7 separate regions of the Homo sapiens genome follow, and all the other regions are reported to be linked to region 4. Evidence: microRNA targets listed by miRTarBase, many of them from high-throughput screens and not tested one by one. Region 4 holds a microRNA gene; each other region holds the end of a gene's coding sequence.

Evidence for each region. Region 4 holds the annotated microRNA hsa-miR-33a-3p (CAAUGUUUCCACAGUGCAUCAC, at 1,339-1,360, opposite strand). A microRNA usually pairs through its seed, bases 2 to 8, with sites in the 3' UTR of a target mRNA and lowers its output. Matches are read on the target gene's strand: a 7mer-m8 pairs with bases 2 to 8, a 7mer-A1 pairs with bases 2 to 7 and ends in A, and an 8mer does both.
Region 1: the mRNA of EFR3B is a reported target of hsa-miR-33a-3p. Seed matches in the 3' UTR shown: 7mer-A1 at 3,130-3,136.
Region 2: miRTarBase lists TPBG as a target of hsa-miR-33a-3p. The part of its 3' UTR that is shown has no 7-base or 8-base seed match.
Region 3: miRTarBase lists DCAF12 as a target of hsa-miR-33a-3p. Seed matches in the 3' UTR shown: 7mer-m8 at 1,092-1,098.
Region 5: the mRNA of FYB1 is a reported target of hsa-miR-33a-3p. Seed matches in the 3' UTR shown: 7mer-m8 at 707-713.
Region 6: miRTarBase lists YWHAE as a target of hsa-miR-33a-3p. Seed matches in the 3' UTR shown: 7mer-A1 at 2,557-2,563 and 7mer-m8 at 2,432-2,438.
Region 7: miRTarBase lists CLTA as a target of hsa-miR-33a-3p. The part of its 3' UTR that is shown has no 7-base or 8-base seed match.

Annotation. Positions count from the first base shown.
Region 1 is chr2:25,153,794-25,157,867 of GRCh38, forward strand. EFR3B (EFR3 homolog B) reads left to right here. Exons shown (of 23, transcript NM_014971.2): 23 at 442-4,074. The coding sequence ends at 547. Among named protein-coding and RNA genes, the nearest start is that of POMC, 13 kb to the right of the region's middle.
Region 2 is chr6:82,365,677-82,369,754 of GRCh38, forward strand. TPBG (trophoblast glycoprotein) reads left to right here. Exons shown (of 2, transcript NM_001376922.1): 2 at 1-1,744. The coding sequence ends at 548. Among named protein-coding and RNA genes, the nearest start is that of TPBG, 3.9 kb to the left of the region's middle. RefSeq lists an enhancer at 1-555.
Region 3 is chr9:34,085,119-34,089,196 of GRCh38, reverse strand. DCAF12 (DDB1 and CUL4 associated factor 12) reads left to right here. Exons shown (of 9, transcript NM_015397.4): 9 at 689-2,810. The coding sequence ends at 847. Among named protein-coding and RNA genes, the nearest start is that of UBAP2, 38 kb to the right of the region's middle.
Region 4 is chr22:41,898,271-41,902,348 of GRCh38, reverse strand. It overlaps MIR33A (microRNA 33a), which reads right to left and starts at 1,405; the gene lies at 1,337-1,405. SREBF2 (sterol regulatory element binding transcription factor 2) reads right to left here. Exons shown (of 19, transcript NM_004599.4): 15 at 3,568-3,700; 16 at 1,851-2,019.
Region 5 is chr5:39,103,663-39,107,740 of GRCh38, reverse strand. It overlaps FYB1 (FYN binding protein 1), which reads left to right. Exons shown (of 19, transcript NM_001465.6): 19 at 276-2,489. The coding sequence ends at 298. Among named protein-coding and RNA genes, the nearest start is that of RICTOR, 31 kb to the right of the region's middle.
Region 6 is chr17:1,342,020-1,346,019 of GRCh38, forward strand. It overlaps YWHAE (tyrosine 3-monooxygenase/tryptophan 5-monooxygenase activation protein epsilon), which reads right to left. Exons shown (of 6, transcript NM_006761.5): 6 at 2,256-3,480. The coding sequence ends at 3,428. Among named protein-coding and RNA genes, the nearest start is that of YWHAE, 56 kb to the right of the region's middle.
Region 7 is chr9:36,211,074-36,215,151 of GRCh38, reverse strand. CLTA (clathrin light chain A) reads right to left here. Exons shown (of 5, transcript NM_001833.4): 5 at 3,093-3,549. The coding sequence ends at 3,378. It overlaps GNE (glucosamine (UDP-N-acetyl)-2-epimerase/N-acetylmannosamine kinase), which reads left to right. Exons shown (of 12, transcript NM_005476.7): 12 at 1-711. It overlaps LOC124902151 (a long non-coding RNA gene), which reads left to right and starts at 1,141. Exons shown (of 2, transcript XR_007061474.1): 1 at 1,141-1,866.

The DNA.
Region 1 (4,074 bases), not on the chromosome of region 4:
CTCCGTGGCCCAGTATTGGGGTTCCTCATCCTGAGTCCTCTCACCCCTGTCTTCTCTTCTCTCCTCCCCACCTCCTTCTACCACTGTAATCTCTATCCCCTGGGCTGGAGTCAGCCACCAACTCTAACCCTCCCTAGACAAGGAAATAGAGACCAGAGAGGGAAAGAGCCTGCCTCAATGAAACCTGGAAAGACGCAAGAGTCCTAGTGTTCCGGGCTGGCACTTTCTAAAGCAGCAGTGTCACTGCGGAGCCTGCAGGGAAGCTTGACTCCAAGCTGTAGATTCTAGTAGAACGTGGAATCCTGGGAACCTGTGGAATGAAGGGGTCTCTGGTGCCTGTGCAAAAAGAAACCCAAGTCACCTACTCTGTTTGGTTGCACAAGGGTGGGATCCTAAAATTCTCTTTTCATGCCTTTCTCCCCATGTGTTCCTGCCCCCTAGGCCCCCACCAAGCCCATCAGGAACCATCACTGCAGCCTACGGTCAGCCGCAGAACCACTCCATCCCCGTCTATGAAATGAAGTTTCCCGATCTGTGTGTATACTGAATTCCAAGAGCCTGAGCTCCTCAAGGAGATGGGGTCTGAGGAGGGGCTCACCTCACGCCCACCCCGACCACATGGAGATCTGGCTGTGATCTCTGAGAAAACATCACCTTAGATGGCAGCGCCTCCCAGGCTAAGCCAAGGTGGAGACTCTCTGGTCCTTCTTGGCCCTCCTACCTCCTCCTCGTCTTCCCTGAGGGAGGTCTCACCAATCAGCATCTCACCTGTGCCCTCTTTGTCTTCTCTTGTGTCAGCCAGGGGCAGAGAATCATGGGGTGTCTCTCAGGAGAAGCCGGGGGGAGGGGGCTGAGAAGCTCCTACTTGGTGTTTTGAGTGAAGGGCATGTCCTCCCCAGAGGACGGAGCTGGATGGAGACTTGGTTGGTGAGAGGAAGCTAAGGACTCTACTCCCCTGGGGAAGGAAGCTGAGATGGGGATGGCTCTCTCCTCCCCAGCACTCCCCCTGCTCCCCGCCCATGTCCCTGCTGTGTCTCTCACTCTCTTGCTCATCTCCCAGTTGTCTGTTCATGTTTCTTTCTACTATTAATGAATGCTGAGCCCTTATAACAGGAGCTGGGGTGGAGACATCACGAGGGGTCGGGGGACAGCAAAGGGCAGGAAGCAGGATGCAGGGCTGGCAGGAGGTGGGCCTGTGGCATCAGCAGGCCCAGCGGGCGAGTGTGGTCCCTGCAGCAGCTTCCCACCTCCTTTGTTCATAAGGAGCTTGTGTTGGCCTCCCACAGTCCTGTCTGCTGGACGTTTTTCAGAGTTGGGTTCTCTCTCTTTGATGTCTTTCTTCTGAGGGTCCCAAGGTGTTCCTGGAGCTTCTGGGTTGAGGAAAGGCAGAGCAAGATAATCTTGGAGGGGAACTACAGGGTCCCCAAGATTTGCCCACATCACCTCCTATGGAAAAGGCTCCCAGCCTGACCTGGGTTGTAGGAGAGTGGGGAGGGTGGGATGAGTGGTGTTTTGGGGCTCAAGGATATCAGAAGCCAACTTTTTGGATGTTCCGTTTGAAGAAAGAAGGATCTAACACCTAATATTGGAATGATTTCTTCACTCTCTGGACAAAGTCTGGGACATCAGCACCACCTGGCAACGCTTGTGGCTTGGGAGGAGCCATGGAGACCCCTTTGGGTTCTGGGTTCCTGTTTTCCTGGTGTGCCGTCTGTGTCTCTGTGTAATGAGGATGTGCAGAGAGGAGCTAACGCGGAGCCGGGCAGAGCCACCCAGGAGGCAGTTTGTTGCCTTCTTTGCCAATTCCCCTTCCCGGCCCCTCCTCCAGGTGCCTTTGTGTCTCCCGGGGTGCCACTGACAGAACCTCACCTGGGGCTCCTCCCATGGCAGTGCCATGTGGTCCAAAATTGCCCTTTCCTTCTCCGTTAGTCACATTTCCCATAACTCCTCCGAGCCAACATAACCTACAGTAAGATGTGAGTGTCAGACGTTCTCTCCCTGGAGTCTGCTTTCCAAAGGAGGCAGGGTGAGTAGATTTCTTGATCCAAAGGAATCCGTTTTTAATTTTTTTTTTTTTCTAGAGATGGGGGTCTCACTATGTTGCCCAGGCTGGCCTCGAACTCCTGAGTTTAAGTGATTCTCCCACCTCAGCCTCCTGAGTAGCTGAGAATCCCTTTTTAGGGTACAATTTCAGGCAGTGTGGCATGGAGTCAGAAGCAGGCTGTTTCTCCTCAGGGGAGGGCAGGCTTCTCAGGACGGCCTCAGCTCATAGCCCCACGTGTGGTGTGCACGGATGTGCAGGGAGAGCCTGATTGTTAGGTGGATGTATTTTCCAGAATCGGGGAGGGACTGAACACGAGCATTTCCCATTAATATGTGCAATAAATGTCTTGGGGAAGGGGCTATTTGACCCTCATTCCCATAGTTTTGGCACTTCAAATGAAGCTCTTCCTTGTGGTCACCATCTCTGCTGTGGGCACACAGCTTCTTTTTCTTGTTTTTTTTTTTTTTTTTTTTTTTTTGAGACACCGTCTCGCTCTGTCACCCAGGCTGGAGTACAATGGTGTGACCTCAACTCACTGTGACTTCCGCCTCCTGGGTTCAAGTGATTCTCCTGCCTCAGCCTCCTGAGTAGCTGGGATTACAGGCGTGCACCACCACGCCTGGCGAATTTTGTGTTTTTAGTAGACATGAGGTTTCACCGTGTTGGCCAGGCTGGTCTGGAACTCCTGATCTCAAGTGATCCGCCCGCCTCAGCCTCTCAAAGTGCTGGGATTACAGGCGTGAGCCACTGCGCCTGCTTGGCACGTGGCTTCTGAATGGCCTGAGTGAGGGCAGGGCCCAGGCATGGAGGCTCCTGCACCCCCAAGGCTTTTTGGCTGTGCTTTATGGCCTCTGGCTTATACTCAACCCAATTTTACAAGCATGAACTTAGACTTCTCTTTAGTATTTATATATTTAAAAACCAAGTTTAAATTAACTCAAACTTGACAGCAACTAACCTCTGAAAGAAACTTTAAAGAAAATTGAAATCTTGAGCCACAAACATGTTCTTTCCTCACTAGCTCCTCCCAGGTTTTATCCTGCACCCAGCTTGGATGAGAGACCCACTGTTTCTTGTGCCTACTTAACATTAGGGTTCCCCGTGGCAGCTTCATCCTGAGCACTGCCTGTGAGCCCTGGTTCTGGGACTTGGCAGTCGCCTCCCTGGAGCATCTTTCCAGAGCCAGCATTAGAACCTGAGATCCCCAGATGTTTCTGCCCCTCATCCCCATCCTGTGAATAGAGAGACAGAAAAGGTGCAGGTTCCCATTCTGCATAGATTCTGCTGTTTCCTCTCCACCGGTCCCAGGCAGCTTTTCCTTTCCATCACTGCCGCTTAGCAAAAATGTGCTTCTTTTGAAGAACTGGTCATTTTTTTTGAGTGCCCTCTTCTCAGTTTTGTTTAAACTTACACTCAGTAGAGTGTTGGGTTGTCTGCTGACATGGAGTAGAACCTGGATTCTGGCCAAATAGGCCAGAATCGGAAAGGTGAAGGTGAGTGTGATAGTAGGTAATCTCCTCACCCCAGCACAGGCCCTGGGAGAGAGGCAAAGCAGTTTGATGGGATCTGGAGGGGAGGGAGGTACCCTGGCCCTTGGTCTAGCATCAGTGAGTCCTGCCCTTCCAAGCCCCTGGAGGCTAGTGGCATTGCATTGTGCCCCTTTTTGCCACCCTTCTCTGATGTGATTTTGAGCGAAGAGGAGTCAGTAAGCCCATTGAGACCGGCTGCTCCCAAAGCCCGAGGACTCTAGCTGTGTGGGGAAGGGCTAGCATTGGTCAGGACTCTGCTGACAGCACTGAGTAGGCAGGAATGTATTTGAGATTTGGAAGTACTGTTAATTTGGTGGAGTCAGGTGAATGGATAAGAGGCAGATCGGCAGAAAGCATCAGTGTGGTCCCGAGGCTCCCTCTGTTTTCCTTGCCATGGAGTCCCCAGCGCCTTGTGCCTGTTTCCATTTCCCTCTCTCTTTGAAAAGTAGAAATCAGTGGTTTCTTGACTCCTAAACAGCCTCCTCACTATAGAAGGAGCCT
Region 2 (4,078 bases), not on the chromosome of region 4:
TGGACTTAAGTAATAATTCGCTGGTGAGCCTGACCTACGTGTCCTTCCGCAACCTGACACATCTAGAAAGCCTCCACCTGGAGGACAATGCCCTCAAGGTCCTTCACAATGGCACCCTGGCTGAGTTGCAAGGTCTACCCCACATTAGGGTTTTCCTGGACAACAATCCCTGGGTCTGCGACTGCCACATGGCAGACATGGTGACCTGGCTCAAGGAAACAGAGGTAGTGCAGGGCAAAGACCGGCTCACCTGTGCATATCCGGAAAAAATGAGGAATCGGGTCCTCTTGGAACTCAACAGTGCTGACCTGGACTGTGACCCGATTCTTCCCCCATCCCTGCAAACCTCTTATGTCTTCCTGGGTATTGTTTTAGCCCTGATAGGCGCTATTTTCCTCCTGGTTTTGTATTTGAACCGCAAGGGGATAAAAAAGTGGATGCATAACATCAGAGATGCCTGCAGGGATCACATGGAAGGGTATCATTACAGATATGAAATCAATGCGGACCCCAGATTAACGAACCTCAGTTCTAACTCGGATGTCTGAGAAATATTAGAGGACAGACCAAGGACAACTCTGCATGAGATGTAGACTTAAGCTTTATCCCTACTAGGCTTGCTCCACTTTCATCCTCCACTATAGATACAACGGACTTTGACTAAAAGCAGTGAAGGGGATTTGCTTCCTTGTTATGTAAAGTTTCTCGGTGTGTTCTGTTAATGTAAGACGATGAACAGTTGTGTATAGTGTTTTACCCTCTTCTTTTTCTTGGAACTCCTCAACACGTATGGAGGGATTTTTCAGGTTTCAGCATGAACATGGGCTTCTTGCTGTCTGTCTCTCTCTCAGTACAGTTCAAGGTGTAGCAAGTGTACCCACACAGATAGCATTCAACAAAAGCTGCCTCAACTTTTTCGAGAAAAATACTTTATTCATAAATATCAGTTTTATTCTCATGTACCTAAGTTGTGGAGAAAATAATTGCATCCTATAAACTGCCTGCAGACGTTAGCAGGCTCTTCAAAATAACTCCATGGTGCACAGGAGCACCTGCATCCAAGAGCATGCTTACATTTTACTGTTCTGCATATTACAAAAAATAACTTGCAACTTCATAACTTCTTTGACAAAGTAAATTACTTTTTTGATTGCAGTTTATATGAAAATGTACTGATTTTTTTTTAATAAACTGCATCGAGATCCAACCGACTGAATTGTTAAAAAAAAAAAAAATAAAGATTCTTAAAAGAATTACAGTGTGTGCAAGTTTGCTTTGAAAAAAGGATGAAGGGCAGGAGTATTCAATGGTCTTGGTTCCGATGATAATTATTACTTAACATAGCTGAGAATCAAACTGTAGCAATGTCTAATATAAATAGACTTGGGAGATCGTTTTGAAATGGTGGATCCTTTTAGTATTTAAATGGAGAGTTTGAGTATTCATGTGACTGTATGGTCCCAAAGTTAATGCTATTTATGAAACAGTTTTGTAAGAACATAATGAAGTTGGTAAAAGCTAAGCGTTCTGCACAATAAACAGTTCCCAGTTTGGGGCTTTTTCAAGGCTAATGAAGTTATTGTTGGTCTAGAAAAATAGTATTTACTTAATAAAACTCTGTTTGAAATTGTTCTGTGGATTTTTAGAGCAGAATTTGAAACAAATGTAATGCAAATAAATATAAAGATAAAGTGTCTTAAAGACAATATTCTGAAATAAAAGATATAAAATATAATTTAAAAAATATTTCTCAATGTCTTAATGTAAATTGAAACTTAGATTTTCTTGAGGATATTTTCAAAAAAACATTTAAAGTGGAACATAAATGTTCTTTAGTTTATCAGAGACCCAGCTAATATGTTTAAAAAGTTGACTTGACATGGTTGAATATGAACTTGAGGAAATAACCACAGATAAATGTCTACATCTGTAAACACGTGTCTCAAGTATTTATAGGTTCTTATCTTCAGTTCAGTGTTTAAGAATTTGAGGATATTTTGATTTTAGCTAAGCTGTTCATAATGTAAGTATATACACCTTTGTGAAGAATAAATCACATTTAGGTGTAAATACAGGCAATCATTAATTGATACATCCATAATATACAAGGCTTTTATTATTTTTTCAGTTTATTATCTGTCATTTAATCTGAAAAGTAAATTCCATTAATCAGTCTTCAGGCTCTTTTATCAAGTGATTTAAATGTAGCCATTATTGCTTAACTGAAAGTATTAGGTAAACTTGCATCAGTAAGTCTTAGGGCTTGCTTTTCCTTTGAACTGGTTATGTCCTTCAGTGCTTTATGTTTGAAATAAAATCTACATTTTCATATTTTTATAAATAAAATAGGATCAGATAGTATTTTAGGTTCTAGAAATCTTTGCTGATTCCTTCTTTGAATTAAATTCAGAAATTTTCAAAGTAGGGCTAAAAATAAGTAAATCTTCCTTTTTATAGGTTAGAATATATAGTCAGAATACAAAGCTGTAATTCCTTAAATTCCATCAGGCTTGTTTTGTGAAATATAGTATTTATTATTTAAGGGTTATATTTCAGATCCTATAATTACCTCAGAAAAAGCTAAATATTTGGCACTTAAAATTCCATCAAACAGTTTAAGTGTTCATCAGAAATTCCTAAACTGTCTGGTTGCCATTATTTGGTAAGAACAATGAGATACTAATCTGTCAAAAATAGTGACCACTATCTTAGTAAACTGTTGATGGACTTAGTAAGTCTTCTGATATTGTAGGAAACAAATTATAATATTGATAGAGCCTCTATTGAGAAGAATTGTTTCTTCATCACATGATAATCTAACAGTTTAAAGTGGAGCTTTATCTAAGAACCAGGGAAGCAGTAGATTCATTAGTCTAGCTTTTCTCATCAACTCTTTGAAGCAATGATGAATCTGATAAAGTGAAGCCAAGTTTTCCCTGTTAGGTAGATGGCTTCTTTGAAGTTATAATTTATTGCTTCTTTTTCATCCCCCTACTTATTCTCTTGTTTGGACTTTCCAATTGCTACTGCTTTGTTTTCCATCACATCACTCCTTCCTGTTCTCCAAAATATGGAAATAAAAAAGTCAATTAAAAGAACACCTTATTCTTAAGATAAAAAATTGTTATTATTTGACAACTAATTAATGTTTTGCAGCCCTAATATTCTTAAGTCTATAAGCTTATAAAACATTCTAAGTTCCTTGGAAGATAGAGGCTATATAAATTCAATAAGTATAAGGGAATATGGGAAAAATAAAAGTATCACTTTATTTAAAAATAAGACAAGTCTGTTTGTTTTAAATACTGTTCTTACTATTAATGCATTGTTGACTCTAGAAACCTGCAAGTATCCATTTTTAAAATTTTATTTTAGTTGGTAATACTCTTTATTACTGAACGTAAAATTTTCAACATAAAACACCCTTCATTTATCCTTTACAAGTTTCATTTGAAGAAAGTTAGAAAAAATACTTAGAAATTCAAGGACTTGATATATCCCTTAATTTAGAAAGCTATTCAACTATCCCATAAATTTCTATTTAAAGTAGCAAAAATTTTAGGATAATACAGCTATTTGGCCCTGAATTATAACTGCCCCCTTTGATTGTAACCATTCAGTTTGCAGCATTCGTTTTTGTAATAGCAGTTTGGCTGCTATGGGTGTGATTCAATGGTAACCTACAAGGCAAATTTGTACAGGAGCTGACAGATTTTTCTAACAAAATAAGGAGACTTTGAAGCACATTGAATAGGAGTTTTTAAATGAATAGGATTTTTTAAAGGAAAAAGAGTAGGAGCTTGGGGGGGAAGGCTGGTTGAAATAAATGAGCAAATCACAAATAATAAATCCTTTAGAAATACCTTGATTGGCAGTAAGTGTGGATTATGCTCATCTCAGTATTTAATTAGAAATAACTTACCTTTGTCTTTTGTCTTTTTAATTAAAGTGGCTGTAAAAAAGAAGGTCCAGATGAACTGAGATTGTTTGCTTAGGAATTCTGTTTTACTCTTTTCCTTTTACCTGATGTTCTAAAACAGGGCTTACCTTGTTGAGGACCTTAGAGGCTTTGCAATTC
Region 3 (4,078 bases), not on the chromosome of region 4:
GATTTTCCCCAAGGTGTAATAGAGCAAGAAGGATAAGGGACCTCCCACCACAGCTGTCAGTGAATTTTTTTTTTTTTTTTTTTTTTGAGACAGGGTCACTCTGTTGCCCAGGCTGGAGTGTAGTGGTGTGATCATAGCTTACTGTATGTAGCCTTGAACTCCTGGGCTCAAGCAGTCCTCCTGCCTCAGCCTCCCAAGTAGCTGGGACCACAGGCATATGCACTGTGCCCGGCTAATTTATTTTTTTTTAGTAGAGATGGGGTCTCGCCATGTTGCCCAGGCTGGTCTCAAACTCCTGGGCTCAAGTGATTCTCTCACCTTGGCCTCCTAAAATTCTGGGATTACAGCCATGAACCACTGCGCCCCACCTCCAGTGAATTATTCAAGTGTTTGGTTCTTCCTCCTGTGCCTAGCAGGTGGAGGGAAAACAGAACTTTGGTTCTAAGTCTCCTGAGAAGAACTGAGCCTTGTATAGCAATTCTTCAGCTGCTCCGTTCTTCTCTAACGTTTAGTTGGAAAAATGAGGCCCTGATTCCCATGAGAACCAACCAGCCAATCTCCTGACATGAGGTTGTACCTGTAGAACCCTGTTCCCTTAAGGAGACCAGAAAGCATTCCTGTCCCTTCCTCCCCCTTTTCCTGCCCCATGGCTAGAGGTGCTAATTGTAGTCTCTTTCTCTTCCCGTAGAATCATGATGAAACCTGGAGGAATTACTTTTCAGACATTGACTTCTTCCCCAATGCTGTTTACACCCACTGCTACGACTCGTCTGGAACGAAACTCTTTGTGGCAGGAGGTCCCCTCCCTTCAGGGCTCCATGGAAACTATGCTGGGCTCTGGAGTTAATGACAACTCCCCAAATGCAGAGATTTACACTAACTTCCATTCTCAGTTTCCTTGTTTCTTTTGATTTTTTTTTTCCTAATTGTGTGAGGCTCTTGTGTTTTAGTGGGAACACCAAAGTTTGCCTATAGTTTAGGCACTTAATAGGAAGAAGCTCTGTACAGAAATCTGAAAGTTGTTTTGCTTTTTGTTTTCCCCTTTGGTAATCAAAATTTTACTATCTTTTATTATTTCTGGCTTTTCAACCAAACATTGTTGCTAATCCCTATTTTTCTTTAAGTGACACACATTCTCCTGTCTCTGGCTTCTTCAGGCTGAAATGACATAGCTCACCCTTACTTCACTCTTGAGAGGTAGGGCTCCTTTATAATTACATGGTTGCTCTCAGACTTTCTGTGAAAGTTTGGGAGCTGTGTGTGTCTGTGTGTGTGTGAGAGAGAGATCTTGTCTGCGTGTGTGTGTGTGATCTTGTGTGCCTGTAGGTACTGTGTGTCACTGAAATTACCTGGAGTGAGGATTACTTGTAATTAAAATATTTATAAAAGAAACAACTTTATTCACAGAGTCCAGCTTTGGGACTAGTCTGTATCTTGTTTTTTAAGTCTAACAACACTGATAATAGGAAGTAAAAACAGAAAGGAAAAGAAATTACCACTGGGAAAATCTTTTTAGTTAGATTGTAGGCTTCCTGGGGCCTCCCATGCCAGGACTGCAAAGTGATCCAGCCCTACCTGTCTTCCCACCTGTGTGTCCCCCGTGTGGGAAGTTGGTGTCACTTCCCCTTCCCACCCTCACATCTGCTTAGCCAGTAGCCACACCCCTAAAACATCAGACTCACCATCCAGGTGCAGCTCCAGAGGCTACAAAAGGCTTCATGGGACTTGAATCCCCATCCTAGCTTCTCTCTCCTTCCCCTCAAGACCTGATCTGGTTTTAAGGGGCCTGGAGCTGGGAGTCTCAAGTCTGCTAAGATTCACATCCATAGCCCCCATGGCTTTGAGGAGAATCCTCTCTGCCATTCTTCCAATCTCCCCAGTGGGTTTTGCTATTATTTTCTAAATTGGGTTAAGTCTAAGAAGGTGGGGGTGAGCAGGGGGTTTATCTGTGTGTAGTGAGTGCTTCATGTGTGGAATATTCATTTTCTTACTGCAGTGGGACTTGGGGTTGAAGCCACCCCTCCTACTCTGTTGGCTTAGCCCTGAGATGGTGACAGGCTGGCCTGCAGTCAGCATCATTGTGCATGTGACAGCATCAATGTGATTAGTAATTTGTCTGTTCCTCCCTTGAACTGTCTGTTTAGTCTGAGGTTTTTAAACTTGCAGGCAGCTGACTGTGATGTCCACTTGTTCCCTGATTTTTACACATCATGTCAAAGATAACAGCTGTTCCCACCCACCAGTTCCTCTAAGCACATACTCTGCTTTTCTGTCAACATCCCATTTTGGGGAAAGGAAAAGTCATATTTATTCCTGCACCCCAGTTTTTTAACTTGTTCTCCCAGTTGTCCCCCTCTTCTCTGGGTGTAAGAAGGGAAATTGGAAAAAAAATTATATATATATTCTCCTTTTAATGGTGGGGGGCTACTGGAGAGGAGAGACAGCAAGTCCACCCTAACTTGTTACACAGCACATACCACAGGTTCTGGAATTCTCATCTTCGAACCTAGAGAAATAGGTGCTATAAACAGGGAATTAAGCAAAATGCTGGATGCTATAGATCTTTTAATTGTCTTAATTTTTTTTCTATTATTAAACTACAGGCTGTAGATTTCTTAGTTCTCACAGAACTTCTATCATTTTAAACTGACTTGTATATTTAAAAAAAAAATCTTCAGTAGGATGTTTTGTACTATTGCTAGACCCTCTTCTGTAATGGGTAATGCGTTTGATTGTTTGAGATTTTCTGTTTTTAAAAATGTAGCACTTGACTTTTTGCCAAGGAAAAAAATAAAAATTATTCCAGTGCACAATGGTGTGAGTGAGTATTGTGTAGCCAGGAGCCTGCCAAAAAGGCCCCACATGACTAGTTGGAAGGTTGGCTTGAGCTGTTGGGATTGCTTGTGGCAGAAGGGGAACACAAGCCATTACCTCCAGGTTAGAGGCAGGTCAAGTGCAGGCACAAATACTAAGACCTGCTTGCTCTGGGTCCCCAACTCTAGCCCAAGATGAGTTGCTCTGAGGTCCAGCTGAGGGTGGATATGCCCAGGGTACTGAAGTAGTGTGACGTTACTTCTGTTACATAAGTAAGGGTTGGTAATAGGCCCTGTCTGCTTGGATGGTGCCCTGAGAATGACGCTGAAAGTGCTTGCATAGTACTCTGGGAATAGGATATTAATTTTTGTTTTTTGTAGTTGGAACCATAGACCTTCACTGCCCTTTGTAAGGGGAAGACACAGTGACCACAGTGAGTGATGCTCTTCTAGAGCCTATTTGGAGCTGTAGCTGAGAGAAACTGCCAAATCATACCACCCTTCCTCACACAGTCATCTCTGGGAAACCCACCAGGGCTAGGCCGCAGAGCCTGGCAAGGCCGTCCCTATTCTTCTGCCACATGGTACTTGTTCTTTCCAGGGCAAGCTGGACACAGCTGCTCTATGCACCTGCCTTAGAGACTGACTGGTTCAGAACATGACACATGGGTTCCTATATGATCAAAGGCTGCAAGACAGGAAGGGGAGATGAGTAAGTTAAAGCAATTTGAGAGGGCTCCCCAGAGGAGACGAGTTACATTTGGAAAGGGCTGAAACTAGCCTTTCCCAAAATGAATTTAGAAGGTATTTGTAAAATCTTCATTGTCAGCCGGGTGCAGTGGCTCACACCTGTAATCCCAGCACTTTGGGAGGCCCAGGTGGGTGGATCACCTGAGGTCAGGAGTTTGAGACCAGCCCAGCCAACATGGTGAAACCCCATCTCTACCAAAAATACAAAAATTAGCTGGGCGTGTTGGCGGGTGCCTGTAATCCCAGCTATTGGGAGGCTGAGGCAGGAGAATTGCTTGTACCTGGGAGGCAGAGGTTGCAGTGAGCCGAGATTGTGCCACTACACTCCAGCCTGGGCAACAGAGTGAGACTCCATCTCCAAACAAAATATATTGTCAAATCATTTTTGGGAAATGCAGATTAGAACAAAAGCAGCTTCATTCCTTTACCATCAGGTTTTTTTATTTTTAAAAATTGGAAAGGAGAGCTTTATTTCTCAAAGGGTTGCAGTCTGCAGGGTGGCCATTCTGACAGTC
Region 4 (4,078 bases):
CCATCACAGGGCTGTTGTATCATATGAGAAGGTACTGCATGTGGGCCATGCATACTCTCTGCCTACGACCTATGGGGCTGGGCTGCCCACCCGGCTCGCAGTGGCACACCTGCACGACACCGAGCAGTGAGGAGTCCTTGTTGAGATGGGCCGCAAGCAGCCCTCCGGTCCTGATGAACTCCCTCAGGCTGAGCCTCATCTCACCCAGCCCTGGCTTTCCTCCTTCCCAGGACACTGGGCCTGAGGAAGACCCTGCCCTGTCCCTGCACAAGGCCTTGATCCTTGCCTACACTGTTTTCTGGCTGTTGTGTGCTTCAAGGGGATGTGGAAAAGGATCCCTCTCCTCAAAACCTGGCACTTCTAAGCTGTGCATGCTGCAGAAGCACCTGTGGGCATGGAGGCAGCAGGCCTATGTCTGGATTCTGCCCTCCGAGGGCCATCAGGCTGCATGGCGTTGTCTTCTAGGCTCACTTTCCTACCACAGAGCTGCTACCAAGGAACCCCAGTCCAAAGGGTGGCTGCAAGCCTCTCATTCCCCAAACTGAGCCTGTACTGTTTGGTTCTCTCATGAAGACAAATACGGAAGAGACTAATGGAAAGCCCAAAAGAGAAGGTGAAATGTGGCTCACCATCTGCCTTTGGTCTTGGCAGCCCAGGGCATTTGGGCACCCCCACCAGCTTTTTTTTAAAGATGGAGTCTCGCTCTGTTGCCCAGGCTGGAGTGCAGTGGTGCAATCTCGACTCACTGCAACCTCTACCTCCTGGGTTCAAGTGATTCTTCTGCCTCAGCCTCCTGAGTAGCTGGGATTACAGATACATGCCACCACACCTGGCTTATTTTTGTATTTTTAGTACAAACGGGGTTTCACCATGTTGGTCAGGCTGGTCTCGAACTCCTGACCTCAGGTGATCTGCCCACCTCAGCTTCCCAAAGTGCTGGGATTACAGGTGTGAGCCACCGCGTCCAGCCAGTTTGGGCCTTTTCTGCACATTGCCTGTCCCTGTAGGGGCTGCCACGCTGTCCTGGGTTCATCCCAGTGCCCAGGTCCACTGACAATATCTAGCTTGAAGTACTAGCCTAGCCAGCTAAGACCAAGCCCCAGGGAGTGGCTGAGAATCTGAATCTCCAGGACTCTCCCGGTCCCTCCCACTCTGGAGCTAAGGACATGTTCCCCGTAGACCAGGTGATGCTCCACTTTCAGCTGGGTGCCCTCCTGTTTCCTGGGATGGCTGTGACTTGGGCCCCAACAGTGGCAGCAGTGCCCTCTATCAGGATCCCCTCCCCCACCTGATAGGGCCTTCAGTCAGGGCAGTCTCTCGAGGGCCAGGCAGGCCTCTGTGATGCACTGTGGAAACATTGCATGGGTACCACCAGAACATGCAATGCAACTACAATGCACCACAGCTGCCCGCCAGGAGGTATGCGGCCAGCCAAGGAGGTGCCCAGGGTGGTCTTCAGCTCTGTTTGTGTGCCCGAGGGGGCAGGAACCCACTCCAAGGCTGCCTGCAGAGGCCTGGGAAGTCACGCAAACCGCTGGAGCAAATGCAGGTGAACCCCTGGCCAGCTGGGGTGCACCTGGGCTTACAGAGGCTATGGGCCAGCAGGACCTGGGACTCTGGGAGCCTAAGAAAGGTGCAGGTAGAAACACACTTGCCTCAGAGGCTGAAAAGGGATGAAAAAGGAGTCCACCTAGGCCAATAAGCCGTAACTTTTTTGAAAGGGGGCTGCTGTCCTGGTTTCTCTGTCTTTCGGATGGCCCCACCCGCAGGGTCAGCATGAGGTGAGTGGGAGTGTTCTCGTAAACCAGTGCAGAGCACCTCCCCCAGGGGCCAACTCAGCTCCCACTCACGTGGTTGAGGGCAGGGTCAGAGGTGGCCCCACTGACGTTGAGGCTGCTCCATAGGTGGCCACTGGCCCTCTCGCAATGGCAGAAGGAACTCTGCTGCCCATCTGCTTTCCCAGGGAGTGAGGCATGCATGGCTCTGCAGGCATGGAAGATGGCCTTCACCAGGGGGCTCCTGCAGCAGTGACAGGGAGTCGAGAGGCAGGTCACTATGTGTCACCTGCGTGACAGGCAGAGGGGCCCAAGCCAGTGACTGCCACGCCCCACACTGATATGACATGTGCATCTGTTGACTCCAATGCTGCCACTATGGCACCATGCCACCAGCTCCAGATCTGAAATGCCAGCCCTGAGCTAGGGTTAGCGCCCCACCCTTTAGCACCTTCATTCAATGCTGGAAGTCAGAGACACAGGCTTCACCATCACGTCTGCTGCTAAGAAGCCACCCAAGATAGTCATTCCAACGTGTGCCTCAGTTTCCTTACCTATAAAGTGGCCACAATAAGGTGTTGTACCCGTTCTTTAAGGGACCACCCCCCCAGAGATGTGGTATTAAACTCTCTGGAGATACTTAGTTAGCTTCTTTCTGTAGAGGAGACTGGGAGTGGAAGGGGAGGCTAGGGATGGGGGAGGGTTCTCATAGCATCCTAGTCCCTGAAAAGCAGAGGGACCCAGGGGTAAGTGAATCCAGCAGGCAGCAGTGCCTGCAGGGGTGTCTTGGCTGTCCATGGAAGCTCTGCTGCTCTGGAGCGAGGTGACTTTGGACAACTTACCTGCTGAGTCTCAGTGTCCTCAGGCACATCGACTGGGGGAGACACACATACAGGTGGAATGCTATACCGGGCTGGGTGCTTACCTAGTCAGAGTGCTTACAAATGGGGCTACTTCAATGAAATTAGGGTGTCACATCTACTTCAGGGAACAAAGGACTTCAAGCCTGTGTATACTCACTCTTCTCAGCTCCTTCCTGTGCGCCGGTTAAGGGTCTGCTTGATAGGAAATGCTACAGCCTTGGCTCTAAGGATAGGACCTCGTGGGGCCTTTCTGTCTTGGAGCATTTTACAGTTTCTCTTAGAATACTCAGATCCAATTAGAAACAGCCGGGGAGTCAGCAGGCAGGGCTGCCCATCACTAGTGCCGAATGCCCCCAAGACGCAGACATGAATCTCCAAAGAGGAATGTCAAAAGCTCTCCGGTTATGCCATGTGCTAAAGGCTATTTTAGTTACAGGACAAAGTTGCCAGGGTTGATGGTGGGGGTGGAGGTGGCTGGAAGGAAAGTGGATAAAATGCTAGCACACAGGGGCAAGATGCTCCAGTGCACATGAGTTTTGGGGGCAACAGTGGCCTCTCTGCACTGATTGTGAACCACCAGTGCCTGCCTCCACCACAAAGCTTCTGAAGATGCTGGGGGCCACACTGCTCTCGTCTCTTCTTTTCAGCCTGTGGCGCCATGAAGGCTGCAGGGAGGAGGACCCGGACACAGTGCTGACAGCTGCTGGGACAACTGTCGTGTTGTGCAGAGCAGGACACTTGCACAGAGGACCTGCTGGCCCAACTTGAGTTCTCCATGGTGCCCTCACCCCCGACTTTTCTAGCCGCCCACCTGTCATGCAGTCCTGACCCTTCACCCCAACACGCCCACCCAGTCCAGTTTGCTCCTGCTAACTCAAACAAGATTCCCCTGGAGAGAAGCAAGTGAGTGGCCAAGGAGGGTTACGCACTCTGTCACTTCCAGGGCCTTGGGGATGCGTTCCACTTTGGTAAAATGAGAGCGCACAGCTGCATCGTCTCCCTGGAGCCAGCTGATGGCCACAGTGATTGCAGACGTCCACCACCGACAGATGATGTCTGGACCTAGAGGAGAACAGCACCAAACGCACTCCAGCACCCACAGAAACGAGACCTGTGGCGCTCAGAGGCTGCTACACTTCCTTCCTAGGAGATGGGTAACATCTTTGCCTGCTGGGAACGGGCCAGCAGCCTCTGGGCTCCCACACCCAGGATTCTGGGGGAGGGGAATAGACCAGCACAATCTTGGAAAGTGTTTGGCAATATATATCAAGAGCCTTAAAAATGTTCATTCCTGGTTGGCCGCGGTGGCTCACGCCTGTAATCCCAGCATTTTGGGAGGCTGAGGCAGGTGGATCACCTGAGGTCAGGAGTTTGAGACCAGCCTGGCCAACATGGTGAAACCCCCTCTCTACTAAAAATACACAAAAAAATTAGCTGGGC
Region 5 (4,078 bases), not on the chromosome of region 4:
CTACCAAAAAGTATATGACTAAGTGCCACATAAAATAATCTTGAGTCTCATTTTAATAGAGAATAAATCTGTCCAGAAATTTTGTTGAATTATATACTAAATAATAAAAGTTAAATATATGATCTTCCATTTAACTCATTTTTTATAAAGTGAGCCAGTTCTATTTTTTTTAATCCTTAACCAGGAGAGTATGAATCACCCACATTTCCAAACTTGGAATACTTAGAGAATATGTTTTTAATAACTATATTTAAATTTGTATTTTTTCCTTTCAGGCTGCATCTATGACAATGACTAGCACTCAACTTTGGTCATTCTGCTGTGTTCATTAGGTGCCAATGTGAAGTCTGGATTTTAATTGGCATGTTATTGGGTATCAAGAAAATTAATGCACAAAACCACTTATTATCATTTGTTATGAAATCCCAATTATCTTTACAAAGTGTTTAAAGTTTGAACATAGAAAATAATCTCTCTGCTTAATTGTTAACTCAGAAGACTACATTAGTGAGATGTAAGAATTATTAAATATTCCATTTCCGCTTTGGCTACAATTATGAAGAAGTTGAAGGTACTTCTTTTAGACCACCAGTAAATAATCCTCCTTCAAAAAATAAAAATAAAAGAAAAAGGAAAATCATTCAGGAAGAAATGACCTGTCTAAAAAAACCTAAGGAAGAATAATAATATAAGAAAGGAAATTTAAAAACATTCCACAAGAAGAAAAATTATTGTTTATACTTCTACTTATGGTTATATCTTATATTCTCTATTCAAGTGACCTGTCTTTTAAAAAGGCAGTGCTGTCTTACCTCTTGCTAGTGGGTTAAATGTTTTCAAAAATTATAGCAGTAGTAGAAGTTTTGTATAAAATTTGTCCTTATTTGTTAATTGTATATAAATGTTAATTATTTGATACGAATGTTATGCATTTAGTATGCACATTGAAGTCTAAACTGTAGAAGAGTCTAAAACAAGTTCTCTTTTTGCAGATTCACATACTAATGGTTTAATTCTGTGCTCTGTTTAAAGTACTATTATAACTAGAGTAGATCTGAATGAGGATAACCCTAAAATCATGAGGAATGGAAGAATGGACCTTGAAACTACCTAGGCTTTTATGCATGGCACCTCTTTATAATGAAGACACTTTTTAAAGTTTTTGTTTTTGTTTCAATTACCGCTAGATTTTTTTTTCTCTTTTTTTAAAATCCATTTTACTGGAAAGTTGGCCAGCAGAGGGAGTAGAAATTATTAAAATTCTAGTGTTTGGATTGGGCCCTTCTCTAACAGTACATACTCATTCCCAAAGCAATCCAAAAACAAAATGTGAACCATTTGGGTTTCAAATGTTAAGAACACTAAATAGCATGATTTAAAAAATGAAAAATGCTAACACCCAAGAAAAGAAGATATTAAGTGCTTTTTAACAACTCCTAGAGTACAAAATGAGTACATCATAATGCTGGCTCTTCTACTAATGAACCATCGAGTGATATTGAATAAATTATTTATCTTCTCAGTTTCCTTATCTGTAAATTACAATATTAGACTAAGTAAGTTTTTCCAACTCTTCACTACCAATTACCTTAGGCTTTTATAATGCTCCGCCTACTTCAGTCCCATGTTTCAGAAGCTTTTGTCTATTTTTTAAACTCATTGATTAAATAATGATTAATGCATTCTCCACATTTTAATATTGCAAAGGCCCATTGGAGTTTCTGAAGTGGCTCCACAGAATTGAAATAATTTCAAATAACTGTAAAGGAACTGAAAATCTTCACAGAGATGAAGTGGGGTTTCCATTAGGTGCTTTGAAATTTGATAACAAATCATCAACTTCCACTGGTCAATATATAGATTTTGGGTGTCTGAGGCCCCAAGATTAGATGCCACTAATCTCCAAAGATTCCCTCCAATTATGAAATATTTTAATGTCTACTTTTAGAGAGCACTAGCCAGTATATGACCATGTGATTAATTTCTTTTCACACTAGATAAAATTACCTGGTTCAAAAGTGGTTTTTGTTTATTAAATTTGGTAATAAATATATATAATACACAGACAGGATAGTTTTTATGCTGAAGTTTTTGGCCAGCTTTAGTTTGAGGACTCCTTGATAAGCTTGCTAAACTTTCAGAGTGCCCTGAGACACTTCCAGCCATCCCTCCTCCTGCCTTCATTGGGGCAGACTTGCATTGCAGTCTGACAGTAATTTTTTTTCTGATTGAGAATTATGTAAATTCAGTACAATGTCAGTTTTTAAAAGTCAAAGTTAGATCAAGAGAATATTTCAGAGTTTTGGTTTACACATCAAGAAACAGACACACATACCTAGGAAAGATTTACACAATAGATAATCATCTTAATGTGAAAGATATTTGAAGTATTAATTTTAATATATTAAATATGATTTCTGTTATAGTCTTCTGTATGGAATTTTGTCACTTAAGATGAGCTGCAAATAAATAATACCTTCAATGGATAACCTTGCCTCCTACTTCATTAAAAAAATTGAGGCTAGCCAGATGCGGTGCCTCACATCTGTAATCCTAGCACTTTGTGTGGCCGAGGAGGGCACATTTCATGAGCCCAGGGGTTCCAGACCATCCTGGGCAACAAGGTAAAACCCTGTCTCTACAATAAATACAAATAATTAGCTGGGTGTGGGGGCACATGCCTGTAGTTTCAGCTACTTAGGAGGCTGTGGTGGGAGGATCACTGGAGCCTGAGAGGTCGAGGCTGCAGTAAGCCATGATTGTGCCACTGTCTCAAAAAAATTTACCCTGTCTCAAAAAAAAGAAATAAATATATTTTTTTAATATTGAGGCCATCAGGCTTCCTCTCTCTTAACTTGATCCTACATCTACAAAACAGTCTTTCTCTGCATCCAACCTTGACTCTAGCTTCAGCCTCAGAAGACGGGATATCTCCTCTTCAAGACCAAACCTTCTACCAAGACTCCTAATACTTTGACTCCTATTTTGTGTCAGAAATTAAGATAACTAAACGCAATTCCTTTCAATTCCCTACAACCTTTGACCTTAACCCATATCCAGACACTGTCCCAGAGAATAAGATGTCATGCCTTAAATTCAAAGCCATAACCTTTGGATCCCATTTCTTCCTGCCTTTTCTGGAGTGTTTGTCTTTTACAATTCATTCTTTCCCATTCTCCTTCTCCTTTTCTGCCTCCCTCTGGCTATCCCTCTTCTTTATCTTTAAGTTCTCCCACTGTGCAGATTCCTTTCTCTAGGCTTACAAACACTGAAATCTTTCCCATCTAAAAAGCAACATGAAACTTTGCCTTGGGCCCAAAAACCTGTCCAGCTACAGCCCGTTTGGATTTTTTTCCCCTCATTTCATTGTCTTAAAATGGCAGGGTATATGTGGCAGCCAGGAGAATGTGCCTCAAAGACTTCCAACTATGGGGCATTTAATTGTCCAAAAGTCCCCAGCTGCTGCATTCTGAAATCCATCACAATGTTTGTGCCAAGATCAGGCTGTTCTAGCTAATGACTGAGTGTTGCAGGGATACTGAGGCAGGCCTATTCCTGAAAGACACAGAACTCCTCACATGGCCAACTTCAGTTTGAGGACTCCCTGACAAGCTTGCTAAACCTGCAGAGTGCTCTGAGACACTTCCAACCATCCTCCCTCCTGCCTTTATTGGTATAGACTTGCATAGCAGTCTGTCAGCTCCTCCAGCCTTCTCCAGCTCCCTTCCCATTTTCTCTCACACATGTATTCTTCCCCACCCACACATGTATTCCTCCCTTCCCATTTTCACTCCCTCTTGGTGTCTGCTTTCCAGAGAATCCAAACTGAACACAGGACATCTGAAGAGTTTGTAAAAATACACATTTTTTTTTTCTCTGCAGATCAACAAATAAAAATCTCTAGGGAAGAAACTTTGGAGTTCATTTTTCCTTAACTCTAAATATGAGTTTAATGCTCAGCCACGTTTGAGAATCTCCCATCCCTATTCATCCTTTGCCATATGCTCAGGGTATATTCAATCGTCAACTTACTGCAACTCGATCTCTGCTACGATTTCTCTAAAGTCATCTCTACATG
Region 6 (4,000 bases), not on the chromosome of region 4:
TCGGCCTCCCAAAGTGCTGGGATTACAGGCGTGAGCCACCGCGCCCGGCCAATGTTAGCTAAATATTAACAGTATCTATTACAATCCTACGAACTCAAAGAAACAGGATAAAACAACACAGGGCTTGGTTTTCCTGATCCAGGTTGGATCTGGGAGCATTCCCATTTCCTCTCACAGTGCTCACAAAGGCTTCCTTTAATGACACACTCTAGGATTTCACCAGTTTTCCATGAACTATTACTTGTTACAATTTTCAAAAGAACACAGGGGTCACACCTTTATCCCGCTTTTTCAGCAAGCCTCACTCTCCTCTATTGTCCTAGGATCAGGAAGCAGCTAATTTGGGGTCTCATTTATAAGGCTCAAGGCATTTGTCTGGGACAGAAGCCAATTAATGTCTCCATTTATCCCACCAGTTTCCCCTTTCAGTGATGGAAGTTCATCCCCATCTTCCTATAGGACCGAAATTTAACTTTGCAGACGTGCTGTTCTGAGGACCCACCCGGAACAGAGCATGTACACAAACCCACTTACTGTCGCTTCTAACATTGTAGGAAGCCTTTGGGTTTTCCAAGGCAGCAAAGTACTGAGATTTGTAATTAAAAACACATATTAGCTACATTCAAGTTGTAACTAACTAAAAACTTCTACTTAAGTCGACTGATCCTCAAAGTAAGACTCAAATCAAAACCAGAAAAGTTTGGGGGCAATTCCCTTTCCAGCCCACAAATACAGGAACTGGGAGTGACACCGTCCTCACAGGGCTACGGCACCTTTCTGCAGCTTCCCTGGCTCCCTTTCAATTTTTTTTTTTTTTTTTTTTTTTTGAGACGGAGTTCTGCTCTTATTGCCCAGATTAGAGTGCAGTGGCGCGATCTTGGCTCACTGCAAGCTCCGCCTTCCAGTTTCCAGCGATTGTCCTGCCTCAGGCCTCCCAAGTCACTGGATGTTAATTACACCCAGCAAGGTCGCCCGCCACCACGCCTGGCTAATTTTTTTGTATTTTTAGTAGAGACAGGGTTTCCCCATGTTGTCCAGGCTGGTCTCTTAACTGCTGACCTCGTGATCCACCCACCACGGCCTCCGAAAGTGCTGGGATTACAGGCGTGAGCCACCGCACCCGGCCTTTCAATTTTTGATAAGGATCTTTCCTTTTTTTTTTTTTTGAGACAGTCTCACTCTGTCGCCCAGGCTGGAGTGCAGTAGCGTGATCTCGGCTCACTGCAACCTCTGCCTCCCGGGTTCAAGCGATTCTCCTGCCTCAGCCTCCCGAGTAGCTGGGAGTACAGGCGTGCGCCACCATGCCTGGCTAATTTTTTGTACTTTTAGTAGAGACGGAGTTTCACCGTGTTAGCCAGGATGGTCTCAATCTCCTGACCTCGTGATCCGCCCGCCTCGGCCTCTCAAATTGCAGGGATTACAGGTGTGAGCCACCGCACCCAGCCGAGTGGTTTCTTTAAACTCTGCAACAGACTTGACGAATTCCTTGGATTTTGACCTTTAAGTGTAGCAGGTGTGCTGGAAACAGAGCAAATCAACTTGAAAGCTTCTTGGAGGTTGCTCCAAACAGCAGCATATAATTATATTCAATGGTCTCCCTATCTCTCGGAAAAGCAACTCACAAAAACATGTTTATTCTCATTGCCAGCACTCACTAAACGCTACTAGGATATCGCTGATCTGTTCATTTCCTAAATCTCTGCTACTAACACTTTAAACCGAGAGTAAACTTGCAGTCTCAACATCCAATTTTAGAAGACAAGTGTGACGAGGAAGGATTTATCAACTGAAAAATGTTTACTGACACAGGGAATCTAGAAATGTACCTTCCAGATACATACAAATATTTAAGCAAAAACTGTTCCAAGGGTATTTCCTGCAGCACCTGCCCAAAAGGAGCAAACTGGTCTTAACAAAATCAGGTGTACATCAATGTTACGCAGTCAGAATGAGACACATCTGAATGCCTAACATAAAAAGATCTACAGTAACTAGGTATCTATACACATTGATGTATAAACTGTTTATGGAAAGAAGCTTCTTATACAGTGTTTCTGGAAAGGGAGACTGCTATCCTGCTGTCTATAATGTGTGTATGGATTACTAAGAAAGGATTGAGTAATTCTCCACTACTGCCACTAGCCTCTGGAGGAAGAGGGCACACAGTTTTTACCTCTAAGAATTATTATAAGACATTCAGCCTTATTTGGTTGTATGAAATACTATGCTAGAAAATGATCCATAATTACACCTTGTACTACTCATGTTGTACTTTAATGATTAAAATAAATACCATGTTGCTGCCTGGTCTGGAGGACAAGACACACCATCAACTGACTCAGTGTTCTTCACAACCAGACTACAGGCAATTTTTTTCCAAAACATACATCTTTGGGAAGCAAACAAATTATTTATGGAAGAAAAAAGGAGGAATGTTTCACATTCAGGCAAACATAATACTGTCAGTGTGTTTGGACTAGAGATTTTATTTTAGAAGTATAAAGGATGGAGGCGCGATATTTGGCATTTTTAATTTAGGTTTGTTTTATTTAAGTTTAATGTTAATTCCATGCTGTGTTTCAGTAAGAACAATACAGATTCTGTATCTGTGGCTCCAGTCAGATATCCAGTAGTACAAATTAGCTTCAAGTTACACATACTGAACAAAAGAGGTTGAGCGAGCGAAGGAGGGGAGGAGTGAGGGGAAGGAGGTAGGGGGAGGGGGAAGGAGAAGAAACAAAAGAATTGAACAGGCATGCAGGCTTTTCCATACCACCTTCAACGCTAACCTGCTTCAGTGGGAGAGTAAAGTAGGCAAGAATGAGCAGCCACGGATTGTTGAACTGTTACCAGCACCATGCTTTTCAGCAACATTTCAGCGGAGTTGGAAACATTTTTTACAGCAAAACCATTACAACGAAGTCCCTCCCCAAACCACCTTTAACCATCTCAAGCTAACACCCAATTACTTGCAAACACTGGTATAAAACACAGTTTAAACAATTAGAAAAATGAAAACTGATACCACTTATGCCTCTATAGTGTGATTAACCTCTCTCTTAGATGCTTGCATCACCTATAAGTCTAATGGCTTTCAAATGTAATTTCCATTTGCTAATGGTGATCTTGCCACATCTGGCACGGAGACGACACAGTAATGCTGAAAAAGCCTCTATGTAGTCCTGTTAGTGTCTTAAAGAACCTAAAAGCTGGGACCAGTAAAATCCACAGAAATTCACTCTTGCCTTTAAGAACTTTTGAAAACTGTTTAAAAAAAAAAAAAAAAAACCAACAGGGCAGGAACCTAAATTCTGAGACCAAATGTAAAAGTCAGATTTGGTGGTTCTCAGTGACAATGGGGAGTTTCCAAAGGGTGGGATGGGGAGGAGGGGGTGGTCAGAGATGGTTTCTCTTGTTGGCTTATGTCTCACTGATTTTCGTCTTCCACGTCCTGCAGCGCTTCTTTATTCTGCTCTTCACCTGTTAAAAAAGAAAAAAAGTCAATTATTTCGTATTGACTACATTAGGCTATGGCAGCCACAAACAAAGGTGTCATTCCAAGCATAAAGACTCTTCTACTTGCTACAATTGGTATTAAACGCAGGCAAAGGACTTCTATCATCCTTGACACCTGAGATGCCTAAGCCAAGAAGGGATTATGGTCCTGAAAGTATTTATTGGTCAACAGAATGAAAAAAACTGATGCGCAGTACAACTCAATGTTTTTACGCTAAATAAGCTCTTGACGTAGACAGCCAAGGAAACCATCTTACTAAAATGACATTCAAGCTTTCACATAAATCTTGGGTCAAAATACTCTTTCTCAATAACCTCACCTCTTCAAGAATCAAGAGTATTTTGCAAACTTTTTGCAAAATCTAATTTACCCACAAGCTAATTATCAGAAATGCTTCAAAATAGTTAACTGAGCAATAAACTGTTGCCAAGAAGTTCTATCGTATTTTATTGTGGGGTTCTGCTGTTATAAATATTTCAGCTT
Region 7 (4,078 bases), not on the chromosome of region 4:
GGTTTCACCATGTTGGCCAGGCTGGTCTTGAACTCCTGACCTCAGGTGATCCGCCCGCCTCTGCCTCCCAAAGTGCTGGGATTACAGGTGTAAGCCATCACACCTGGCCCTAGTGACAGGTTTTTATGGGTACTTTTAGATGATCTAAGAAATCATGTGCATATATCTTTCAGATTTCTATTTTGGGAAAATGAAGGTTTCTACAACATATTGTTTCAGTGTTCAAATAAACTGAAGGACTCAACATTACATTTGAACTATATCCTTCCTAGTGGGTTAGTGTGAAAAAGAGTTTGGCTGATTCCTAAAACTCTGCCAGCCCTGCAGTAATCTCCAGGGCCTGGTTATTGTTCAGACATTCCATGGTGATTCCTGGGAAGGAAGCTTGGCTGCTCAGTTTCTGAGTCTGGGGTGAGATAATGTTCTGGGAAGGGACATCTGTTCTTTGGTGTAATCTCTCATGGTGAAATCTGCTCTGTACATCAGACAATTGCATTGCTACCAAGTTTCATACCAAATATTTGAAAGGATGGTATTGAATCTAAAACCAAATATTAGTTTTTATTAAACTCATGGGAAGGCTAATATATTCCAACGTAAATTATTACATATGGTTAAGTAATTGCATGTTAATTTATTTTAATGTAAATATTTTTGTTACTGTTCTGAGCCAAATTCTAAAGAAAAAATAAATACATTTCCTTGTTGAAATCCTGTTGTATTTTGTTTTGTTCGTAACTCATTAGCCAAAAGCATTTTCCTTCCCAGAAGAGATTTAATTGTTGCACTGCTTACGTTTTGAAGGTTATATAACTTCCTTAAGGCCTCTAATATCATTGCTTTCTTAACCAAAAAAAGTCTATTAATAGAAAGCATGGCTGGGCATGGTGCCTCATGCCTGTAATCCCAGCACTTTGGGAGGCTGAGGCAGAAAGATTGCTTGAACCCTAGAGTTCGAGACCAGCCTGGGCAACATGCCAAAACCCCATCTCTACAAAACAATACAAAAAAAATTAGCCAGGCATGGTGCAGTCTCAGCTACTCAGGAGGCTGAGGTGGGAGGATCACCTGAGCCCGGGAAGTGGAGGCTGCAGTAAGTTAGTTATGATCATGCCATTGCACTCTAGCCTGGGCGACACAGTGAGACCCTGTCTCAAAAACAACAAAAACAAAACATTGCTATATATAACATTGAAAATTTGGCATAAAAAAGCAAAGTAGCCCCCAAGAAAGAGGTTTGAAACTAAGTGTTAAGCATTTACTGAGTCCCTAGACCCACTCCCTCTTTTTATGAGGCCCTATGTGGGTCTCATACAGGCATTAGAAACAATCCCAAATTACTATTGCTGTGTAACCTCAAAACTGAAGAGCTTAAAACAACAGTAATTGTTTCACGTCGTGGTTTCTGTGGGTCAGGATTTGGGAAAGGCTCAAACTTGACAGTTGTAGCTCAAGAGTATCCTGCACTTGTAGTTGTCAGCTGGAATAGCACGAGGCTGGCTGGCCAGGCATCTCCCAATGTGTGTGGTTACAGGGTCTCTCAGGTGGCCTCTCTGTGGGCTAGTTTGGGCTTCCTCACCACATGGGTAGCTTCAAAGGTAGAATTTTTTATGAGGCGGCTCAGGGCCACCAGCTAGTTGCTCCAACAAATCAACCATCAGCAGCACTGCCTTTTATGACCTAGCCTTGGAAGTCATCCCAGCATCACTTTTGTCACATTATTCAGTCACCTCTCCATCTAGAGAATGTCACAGATTTTGTTGACATTTAAAATTGCCACCTCCCACCTCAAGAAGCCCAGCTGGTGTGGGAGGCAAGACTGGTCCAGACGATGGCACCAAGACTACCAAAAATAAGCTGCCCCAGGTAGATGGCCATGGGAGTTCAGGGGAAGGGGGGTGGCCTTTGAACTAGTTCTTAAATTGGATTTTGACATTTGGAATGGGATTAGCAGGTCCCGTAGGAACAAAAGTCTGGGAACAATGATTGCTTGATTGTAATAAGATTTGACTAAAGGGGGAGGAATAAGCAGAGGCCAGAAATGTGGGCCAGGTCAAGGAAAGCCCAACTAAGCTTGGAAACGGGGAGGTAGCAGGAAAAGTAATGAAAGCTCCTTCCAGCCAAAAATAATTAACATTGAAGAGATAGTGGCCTTTCCTTCTTGGCAATGGCAACACCTAACCCCCATCCTGAGCATAGTATTACAGTTTACCTCAATCTCCAGTTTGGAAGTACCAGGTAGTTATAAGCAGATTACTGAAATATAGCTTTAATAATTGCTTGGAACATCACCTAAAACGAGCCAGGTACTATGCCAGGTTCTGAAGACAGATAATGAACTTACTGGTGTCTGAACAAAGCACGGGCTCCTGGAAACACCTGTGGTAGATCAGCATGGTCCAGTGCAGCTTTCTGCGACCATGGACATGTTCTATAACCTGTGCTATCCGAGTGCCACCTAACCACATATGGCTACTGAGCACATGAATTGTGACTAGGACTAGAAATGTATTTTAAATTCATTTAAATAGCCACATGGGCCTGGTGAATACTGCACTGGACAGCACAGGTCTAGATGAAGGATTTTACAAGAGAAATATGAACCAAGTGCTTGGGATGGCACAGAACCCAACATGTGCTACAGGACTCAACAGTAATGGGGCTAGCCACACATGAATGCCGTCCTGACTCAGGCTTACTGGCCGGATCCAAAGGAGTCAAGGTCTTACTAGAGTCTACGTGCCCCACAGACTCCTGCCGAAATATACTATCCAAGACCCTAAACTGAGGGACACTGGCAAGCAAGAGCCCATCTGGGAGAAAACGACTAGGTTGGTGAGAGGATTCACAGCTGTGTCTTAGGTAGATAATGAGGGGGTTAACCTTCAGCCACTAAACTCCCTTCTCAAATGAAAATGTCCACAGGATCCCACTCTAGATCCCGGTGCTATCTTAGTTCAAGGCAGGGCTGTGTGCCCAGTGGCTGTGCCTCCTCAGCCCTAGAAATTTCAAGGAAATTCCTCCTGGAAATTCCTTCCAACCTCACTCCAAACTACAACACATCTTGAGGTCAATAAAGAAGCTTCACATAATACAGTTTGAAACAGAAATTTATTCTCAGAATAATGCACAGAAGCACAGGTTGAGGCTACTCTTGGGAAGCTTCCCTCCCCTTCCTCTTCCTCCTCTCCCTCCTCTCTGAATGCCAGGGAGAACACAGTTGAAGGAAGGAAACATGCAATCACAAACAATGAACAACTCTAAAGACAAAAAGGTTTGGTCCAAAAGAACTCAACATAATTAATCCAATGACTGTGAAGAGCTTCACTGAGTAGGATTAAGATATTGCAGATGTAGTGTTTCCACAGGGTGGCTCTTCAGTGCACCAGCGGGGCCTGCTTGAGGGAGATGAGGACTGAGCGCATGCGGGAGACATCTTTGGCCTGCTTGCTAGACTTGGGGTTAAAGTCACACAGCCGGGCCACCCGTTCCCACTCAGTGCCTGGGGACGACTCGTCAATGTCATTTACAAAGGCTTCTTCTGCTGCCCTGGAAGCAACAACAAAATATGTTGGTTTATGCAGAACCCCCTTTGAGCAACCTGGTGGCTGCCTTGCTACACAAGCAACTGCCTATTTGTCCCTTTCTTAATGACATTCTGGCTTTCCCAAGATAACAGCCCCTGGCCCAGGTCAGACTCAGGTAGACACGTAGCTGGCTCTCCTAGGCACAGGGTGCCCAGACCGCTGTGTAAAATGTTGGAATACAGGTGTTTGGTTCAAGGCTCACTATGTCTCTCTGTCTGTCTCTGCTCCTGTGGAGCATTAATAAAACAAGTCCTTAGCCAGCTACACACTGCTTTTATTAATAAGAACAAAGCAGCAGGCTGATCAAGAACTTGAGTAGTTTATGCTGGGCTGTACTGAATTTCAAGGAAATTTAGAGACTTCTAAAAAGCCCACAGATCATTGCACAATAGCCTCTAGATTTATTCCTAAGGCTGGAGAGAAACGGGGCAGATCAAAAGGAATTCAAGACAAAGCTCCCATGCTAGCAAGCACTAGAGACTAAAGCCATT